Regions from separate parts of the Homo sapiens genome. Here region 1 is reported to be linked to region 2. The links are microRNA targets in miRTarBase. Many come from high-throughput screens and were not tested one by one. Region 2 holds a microRNA gene; the other region holds the end of a gene's coding sequence.

The links. The annotated mature microRNA hsa-miR-6722-5p reads AGGCGCACCCGACCACAUGC and lies in region 2 at 2,116-2,135, opposite strand. An mRNA with a match to its seed (bases 2 to 7 or 8) in the 3' UTR can be bound and repressed. Matches are read on the target gene's strand: a 7mer-m8 pairs with bases 2 to 8, a 7mer-A1 pairs with bases 2 to 7 and ends in A, and an 8mer does both.
Region 1: miRTarBase lists TMIGD2 as a target of hsa-miR-6722-5p. Seed matches in the 3' UTR shown: 7mer-A1 at 785-791.

What each region holds. Positions count from the first base shown.
Region 1 is chr19:4,289,190-4,293,189 of GRCh38, reverse strand. It overlaps TMIGD2 (transmembrane and immunoglobulin domain containing 2), which reads left to right. Exons shown (of 5, transcript NM_001169126.2): 5 at 305-963. The coding sequence ends at 591. It overlaps SHD (Src homology 2 domain containing transforming protein D), which reads right to left. Exons shown (of 6, transcript NM_020209.4): 6 at 2,468-2,743. The coding sequence ends at 2,557. Among named protein-coding and RNA genes, the nearest start is that of TMIGD2, 11 kb to the left of the region's middle.
Region 2 is chr9:136,744,826-136,748,949 of GRCh38, forward strand. MIR6722 (microRNA 6722) reads right to left here and starts at 2,145; the gene lies at 2,068-2,145. LCN6 (lipocalin 6) reads right to left here and starts at 3,700. Exons shown (of 7, transcript NM_198946.3): 1 at 3,569-3,700; 2 at 2,599-2,738; 3 at 1,019-1,089; 4 at 345-455. The coding sequence starts at 3,658. It overlaps LOC100128593 (a long non-coding RNA gene), which reads left to right and starts at 1,336. Exons shown (of 3, transcript NR_033913.1): 1 at 1,336-1,376; 2 at 2,253-3,747; 3 at 3,921-4,124.

The DNA.
Region 1 (4,000 bases), not on the chromosome of region 2:
GGAGATCAAGACCATCCTGGCTAACAGTGAAACCCCGTCTCTACTAAAAATACAAAAAATCAGCCAGGCATGGTGGCGGGAGCCTGTAGTCCCAGCTAGTTGGGAGGCTGAGGCAGGAGAATGGCGTGAACCCAGGAGGCGAAGCTTGCAGTGAGCCGAGATTGCGCCACTGCACTCCAGCCTGGGCGACAGAGTGAGACTCCGTCTCACAGAAAAAAAAAAAAAGAGACAGATCCCCCAGAGGTCAGCTGGAGAGGGCAGGACTCTCTTAAGTGATCCTCTTGGTCTGTGTCATCCATCCTAGGAAATGCATTCTACAGCAACGTCCTATACCGGCCCCGGGGGGCCCCAAAGAAGAGTGAGGACTGCTCTGGAGAGGGGAAGGACCAGAGGGGCCAGAGCATTTATTCAACCTCCTTCCCGCAACCGGCCCCCCGCCAGCCGCACCTGGCGTCAAGACCCTGCCCCAGCCCGAGACCCTGCCCCAGCCCCAGGCCCGGCCACCCCGTCTCTATGGTCAGGGTCTCTCCTAGACCAAGCCCCACCCAGCAGCCGAGGCCAAAAGGGTTCCCCAAAGTGGGAGAGGAGTGAGAGATCCCAGGAGACCTCAACAGGACCCCACCCATAGGTACACACAAAAAAGGGGGGATCGAGGCCAGACACGGTGGCTCACGCCTGTAATCCCAGCAGTTTGGGAAGCCGAGGCGGGTGGAACACTTGAGGTCAGGGGTTTGAGACCAGCCTGGCTTGAACCTGGGAGGCGGAGGTTGCAGTGAGCCGAGATTGCGCCACTGCACTCCAGCCTGGGCGACAGAGTGAGACTCCGTCTCAAAAAAAACAAAAAGCAGGAGGATTGGGAGCCTGTCAGCCCCATCCTGAGACCCCGTCCTCATTTCTGTAATGATGGATCTCGCTCCCACTTTCCCCCAAGAACCTAATAAAGGCTTGTGAAGAAAAAGCAAAGCTGGTGTTTGTGGCGATTTGGGAGTGCTAAAAAGATCTGAAGAAATCGGGTGCGGTGGCTCACGCCTCTAATCCCAGCACTTTGGGAGGCTGCGGTGGAAGGATCACTTGAAGCCAAGAGTTTGAGACCAGCCTGGGCAATAGAGCAAGAAGACTCCATTTCTACAGAAAATTTAAAAACAAGGCCAGACGCGGTGGCTTGCGCCTGTAATCCCAACACTTTGGGAGGCCGAGGTGGGCGGATCACCTGAGGTCAGGAGTTCGAGACCAGCCTGGCCAACATGGTGAAACTCCGTCTCTACGAAAAATACAAAATTTAGCCGGGCGTGATGGTGCAGCTGATGTCTCTGGTCTCAGATATTTGGGAGGCTGAGAGGGGAGGACCACTTCAGCCCTGGAGGTTGAGGTTGCAGTGAGCTCTAATTATGTCACTGCCCTCCAGCCTAGGTGGTAGAGTGAGACCCTGTCACATACACGCACCAAAAAGACTTAAGGGGTCATCTGGGGTCCCAGAGCTCTCAGGGGTGGCTGGAGAGGCCCACTGTGGCCAAGGGACTTTGTGGCAACTCAAAGCCCCCCTCCCACCTTATAGGGACAAATCCAAGGAGGAAGAAGTGGTACTCTGGCTTCCAAACAGTCCCCTGCCATGGAAGACCCCCCCCGCAGCTGGCATCACTCCCAGGCAGGCCTGGAGGTGGGGAGAAGAAGGGGAGGTCAGGAGATTCATGGTGTTTACCAGCCCCCCAGGTCTCCTGCCTGCCTGGCCTGTCACCTTGAAGTGACACCAGCTAGGCCCAGCTCCCCTCCCCTACTTCTGCTGTTTCCATGGGGACAGATGTCCTTTCTGCAGATCAAGCCACTGCTGCCGGGGGGAGGGAGCGGGGCTGGCCCGAGAGCCTGGCCCCCCTCAGTTTCTCCATCTTTGTATCTGTCGGTTTCTATGGAGTGCGGTTTTTAATCTGCTCCACGACGCTCTGTCTCTTGCTGAGTTCTGGTCCCTCCCTATGGGAGATTCAGGTTCCAATCCCAACTCTGTCCCCAAAACAAAGTGCTGGGGATGTGCTTGGCCCTCAAGGCCTCGAGGGTTTTTTATGTTTGTTTGTTCTGAGATGGAGGCGTTTCACTCTTGTTCCCCAGACTGGAGTGTAATGGTGCGATCTCAGCCCACTGCAATCTCCGCCTCCTGGGTTCAAACGATTCTCCTGCCTCAGCCTCCCGAGTATCTGGGATTAGACGCATGCGCCACCACGCCCGGTTAATTTTGTATTTTTAGTAGAGACGCGGTTTCTCCGTGTTGGTCAGGATGGTCTCGAACTCCCAACCTCAGGTGATCTGCCTGCCTCAACCTCCCAAAGTGCTGGGATTACAGGCGTGAGCCACCGTGCCTGGCCTCCTCCAGGGTTTCAATTACCCCATTATCCCCCTCTCCAGGGCTGCTTAGGGCTTTCCCGCTGGGAGTCAACGATCCCACTTCCCTCTGTAGCCCAGAAAGGACACTAAGACAAACAATAACTTATTTATTTTCTAGGCCATGGGAGGGCTTTGGGATACGATTCTGGGCCCGAGGACTCAAAAGGGGGCCGAGGGTCACTGTCAGGGGGTCTGCGTGACCACGGGGTACAGCAGAGCCAGATGCTCGGCACCCTGCACCGGCAGTGGGCGTGAACTGTAGTGGAGGACGAGCTCGGGCACGCTGGGGAAGGGCCCGCTGTGTTGGCCCAGCACCACCTGGTTCTCACGGGTCCGCGCGAACTTCAGATGCAGGAAGCCCTGGCTGCTCCTGGGCGATGAGGGAGAAAGGGACTCCTGAGCATCCCGGACCCACCCAGAAAGGCACCATCCCCAAAGCCACCTCCCACAGTGCCCAGGCCAGGTGCTCGTGTGTCTCCAGTCTCTGGTAAACAGCAGTGTGGTGGCTGGTATACTCGCTCACACCTGTAATCCCAGTGATATGGGAAGCTGAGGCTGTAGGCTTACTCCAGGCCAGGCGTTAGAGACCAGCCTGGCCAACAGAGTGAGACCCCGTCTCCACCAAAAAACATTTAAAAATTAGGCGGGTGCGGTGGCTCACGCCTGTAATCCCAGCACTTTGGGAGGCCGAGTCAGGCAGATCACTTGAGGTTACGAGTTTGAGACCAGCCTGGCCAACATGGTGAAACCCCATCTCCACTAAAAATACAAAAATTAGCCGGGCGTGGTGGCGGGTGCCTGTGGTCCCAGCTACTCAAGAGGCTGAGGCATGAGAATCCCTTGAACCTGGGAGGCAGAGGCTGCAGTGAGCTGATATTGTGCCACTGCACCCCAGCCTGGGTGACAGAGTGAGACTCTGTCTCAAAATAATAATAATAAAAAAATAGGCTGGGCGCGGTGGCTCACGCCTGTAATCACAGCACTTTGGGAGGCCAAGGCAGGCGGATCACGAGGTCAGGAGATGGAGACCATCCTGGCTAACACGGTGAAACCCCGTGTCTACTAAAAAATACAAAAAATTAGCTGGGTGTGGTGGTGGGCGCCTGTAGTCCCAGCTACTCGGGAGGCTGAGGCAGGAGAATGGCGTGAACCCGGGAGGCGGAGCTTGCAGTGAGCCGAGATCGTGCCACTATACTCCAGCCTAGGCGACAGAGCGAGACTCTGTCTCAAAAAATAAATAAATAAATAAATAAATAATAATAATAATAAGAGGCCAGGTGCAGTGACCCACACCTGCAATCCCAGCACTTTGGGAGGCCGAGTCAGGCGGATTGCTTGAGGCCAGGAGTTTGAGACCAGCCTGGCCAACATGGCGAAACCCTGTCTGTACTAAGAATACAAAAATTAGCCGGGCATGGCGGCTCACACCTGTAATCCCAGCACTTTGGGAGGCTGAGGCGGGCGGATCACGAGGTCAGGAGATCGAGACCATCCTGGCTAACACAGTGAAACCCCGTCTCTACTAAAAATACAAAAAAATTAGCCGGGCGTGGTGGTGGGCGCCTGTAGTCCCAGCTACTCGGGAGGCTGAGGCAGGAGAATGGCGTGAACCCGGGAGGCAGAGCTT
Region 2 (4,124 bases):
AGGCCACCTGCCCTGGGATGCTGGCCCCGGTCCTTCCAAAGCCACCTCCAGTGCAGCGAGCCTCAAGGTGGGGGAACTTGGCCTGCATGTGGTCCTGTGCGGCCCACCCACCACACAGCTCCCCACATGGCCCCCGAGCGGCCCACTCACCACACAGCTCCCCATGTGGCCCCAAGCGGCCCACTCACCACACAGCTCCCCACATGGCCCCCGAGCGGCCCACTCACCACACAGCTCCCCACGCGGCCCCCAAGCGGCCCACGCACCACACAGCTCCCAACGTGGGCCCCGAGTGGCCCACGCACCACACAGCTCCCTACGTGGGCCCCGCACAGCACACTTACTGTACAGCTCCACGGTGTTGAAGGGCTCGTCCCCGAACTCCAGCTGAGTGAAGATGATGGCATAGTCTCTGAAGTTGGTGGCCAGCACCCAGAGCTCCAGCACGCCTATTGCTAGGAAACAAAACCCCCCGCCTCAGGGGAGGGCAGCTGCTGTATCCATCCAGGGGCCGCTGAGCTGATGCTGGCCACAGGGACAGAGGGGCCAATTCAAGTGAGAGCCCCCCTCCCCAGGAGACCCCTCCAAGCACACCCAGAGCCCCCAAGCTTTGTCCCCCACCCCCGACCCCACCTGGTGCCAGCATCAAGGGGCTTTCAGACACTGACGGACAGACAGACAAGCACTGCCCCAGCCTGTCCCAGGTGTGAACGAGGAGCGGCTGGGTCACACCAGCCCAGCCCTGTACCTGTAGACAGCCACTAAACAGGCCCCTCGCCCTCTGCACCTATGGGGACCTTGGCTGGACCTCACTGGTGTCTGAGCCTGCTGGGAACAAGGTTCCAATCCTCTGTCCAGGGGCTTCTCTTCACCCTCAGGATGGGCAGCAATCCCAAGACCAGAACCTGTAGCCTCCTGGCTCTCGGGAGCGGAGTCAGCCCTCCGTCCCTGCCCGCAGGGGGCCTGGGGATGCTGCAGGGAAGAACGGCCTGGGTGAGGCCGTGGCCGTCAGACTCACAGGGATTCTCAAACACCCATCCGGAGTTTCGCTTTATCAGGTCCATGACACTCTGGTCACACCCTCCCAGCCTGGAAAAGAAGGGGCCTGTCACCCACTCAGGGTCAAGACCCCGGGGCCCGGTGAGAGGAGACGGAGCTCAGGAGTCCAGGCCAGGCCAGCCAGCAGTGAGGCCAGAGCTTCCATCTTCTGCCAGATGCCCCGATGCCCGGAAACCTGTTCTCGGAGAGTGGACGGCGTGGGAGTCCTGAGAGGGGCGGACACTCCCATTCACTTCCTGAGAGATCCTCAGTGCCAGATCTCCACCAGGAACGCTGAATGCTGCTGAGGACACAACAGGAGACTCGACAGACGGGAGGTTCGCCCGCGACTCGGGGGAAAGATGGGGTGGGGTGGGGGTTCGCCCGTGACTCAGGGGAAGGATGGGGCGGGGTGGGGGTTCGCCCGCAACTCAGGGGAAGGATGGGGCGGGGTGGGGGTTCGCCCGTGACTCAGGGGAAGGATGGGGTGGGGTGGGGGTTCGCCTGCGACTCAGGGGAAGGATGGGGCGGGGTGGGGGTTTGCCTGCGACTCGGGGGAAGGGGCCGGCGCTCCCTAAGTGGTCAGTCCCCAGAGTGAGCAAAACCCAGCAAAGGTGCAATGGTGTTTGCCAAGGAAGGAAACTGAGGCTGAGTCCATGCGGGAGGAACAGCAAGAAGAACTAGGAAAGCCACGTGGGAGCTGCCACCTCAGCCTGGAGCCCCTTGGTCCCAGCTCGCCCTGAGGCCAGGCCTGGCCCGGGGGGTGCAGTGGGGCCCCTGCCCATACCCTGCAGGCGCAGGTGCAGGGGGAAGGCACGCTGGTGAGGAGGGCAGGTTCTTCTCTCTGGGCCCCGTACCTGGCTCAGTGGTTCAGGCCTGGGCTCTGTCGCCAGCCTGCCAGGGGGTAGACACCCACCACGCCACCCAGCAGGCCACTCTTCTGTGAAGGGAGGCGGGCACCGACTCCTGCCCCAGCACGGCTACCCCCACAGCCCGGCTGCCCTGTAGGTGTCCCCTGTGTAGCACGGCCGCCCCACAGCCTGGCCCACCCGACCCCTGCACGCCGCCACCAGCCATGCATGTGGTCGGGTGCGCCTGCCTGAGGCCACAAGGCCAGTCTGGCCAACAGCGTCCATGACCATATTGTTTGGGGATTTATGTTATGAAAGAACCAGTGGTTCTTAGGTCCGAATGCATTATCCTCCTTTAAACAGAATTCCCGAAAAAGGCCTGCTGAGAGGACAGGCTTCCCCAGCTCTGACCACAGCCTGCAGCCCAGATGACCCAGGACAGGGATGCATGAAGGAGCATAGTCAGAGCAGTGCCCGCCGCGGTATTGAAGGTGGGAGTGCCACCTGGAGGCCCCAGGGACACAGATGTGAGTAGCTGGGCAGAGGGCTGGTGGCTCTGCACAGAGCCCAGTGGGAAAAGTGACGGGGGTGCAGAGGGGCCGTGGGAAGCCCCCAGGCCGCGGTGCCCGGGAGCAGATGTGCAAAGTACATGATGTGGCTGAGCCACAGTCCTGCCTGCGGGAAGGCCTGGCAGGACCCGCCCACTCACCCGTGCTGAGAGGACAGCGTCCGCAGGTTGTTTTCTGGAGTGAGGGTCACCACCACCCCCACGACGTTCTTCATGTCCTTCTCCATGGCAAAGCCCTTTTCCCGGGAGGCCACCGCAAGCACGTACCAGGGCCCAAGAAGCTGCATTGAGGCGGCTCCCGTTAGGGCCGCCAGCCCTCCAGCCTCCAGCCTCCAGCCTCCAACCCTCCAGCCTCAGCCTCCAGCCTCCAAACCTCCAGCCTCAGCCTCCACCCTCCAACCATCCAGCCCTCCAGCCTCCAGCCTCCAACCCTCCAGCCTCCAGCCTTCCAGCCCTGCAGCCTCCAGCCTCCACCCTCCAACCATCCAGCCCTCCAGCCTCCAGTCTCCAACCCTCCCGCCCTCCAGCCTCCAACCTTCCAGCCTTGCAGCCTCTAGCCTTCAGTTCTCCAGCCCTCCAGCCTCCAGCTTCCAACCCCCCAGACCTCCAACCCTCCAGCCTCCAGCCTTCCAGCCCTACAGCCTCTAGGCTCCAGCCCTCCAGCCTTCCAACCTCCAGCCTGCAGCCCTGCAGCCTCTAGTCTCCAGCTCTCCAGCCCTCCAGCCTCCAGTTCTGCAGCCCTCCAGCCTCCAGCCCTCCAGCCTCCAGTTCTACAGCCCTCCAGCCTCCAGCCCAGCAGCCTCCAGCCTCCAGTTCTCCAGCCCTACAGCCTCCAGCCCTCCAGCCTCCAGTTCTCCAACCCTACACCCTCCAGCCCTGCAACCTCCAGTCTCCAGCCTCCAATTCTCCAGCCCTCCAGCCTCCAACCCTCCAGCATCCACCCCTCCTGCCCTGAGGCTCCTGCCTGTGGGACTCCCCAAGGGCTGGCCCAACTAATTCCCCACTGCTCATGCTGGTCTGGGCTAGCCCTGGGGGGCCCAGAAGCTGTGTGGCCTTAAAGGAGGGGCTGGCCCCCGAGGACCAGCTCTCCCCACCCCCAGGAGGACTGTACCTGCTCAGGGTCCAGTCTTCCCAACCACACGGCCTGGGCCCTGGGCACCGAGACCAAAGCCAGAAAAGCAGCCAGCAGCAGGCCGCCCATCCTCCCAGGTCTACACTGCGCCGCAGGCCCAGGATGTGCAGTCCCTCCAGGCCCTGGAGACCCGTTTATATGGCTCTGAATTTCTCCGTGTGGGTGGCACTAACTGCCAGGAACCCTCCTGGCCTCCTGCAAAATTACCCAGGGGAGCACTGAGCAGTGGCAGCCTCTGAGCCCAGATCAGACCAGCTGCACAGCCAGGAGAGGGTCTGGAGTGTGTGGATCAACCATACTATACTGATCCCCTGCTTTCTTCCACCAGAAGGTTCCAGAATGGGCATCCTAAAGCCAGCCGCACCACCTCCCCCGTTCCTGGGGACCCACGCTCTCCCTCGCCCAGCCTGGGAAGCAGGGAGACTGCTGTCCGCTGCCAGGCCCGGCAGGAGGCCAAGGTCAAGCCCAAGGAGAGGAACCAGGGCGAGAACAAGTGGTTCTCAGGAACTGCGGTTTTGGATATCTTTTGTTTCAA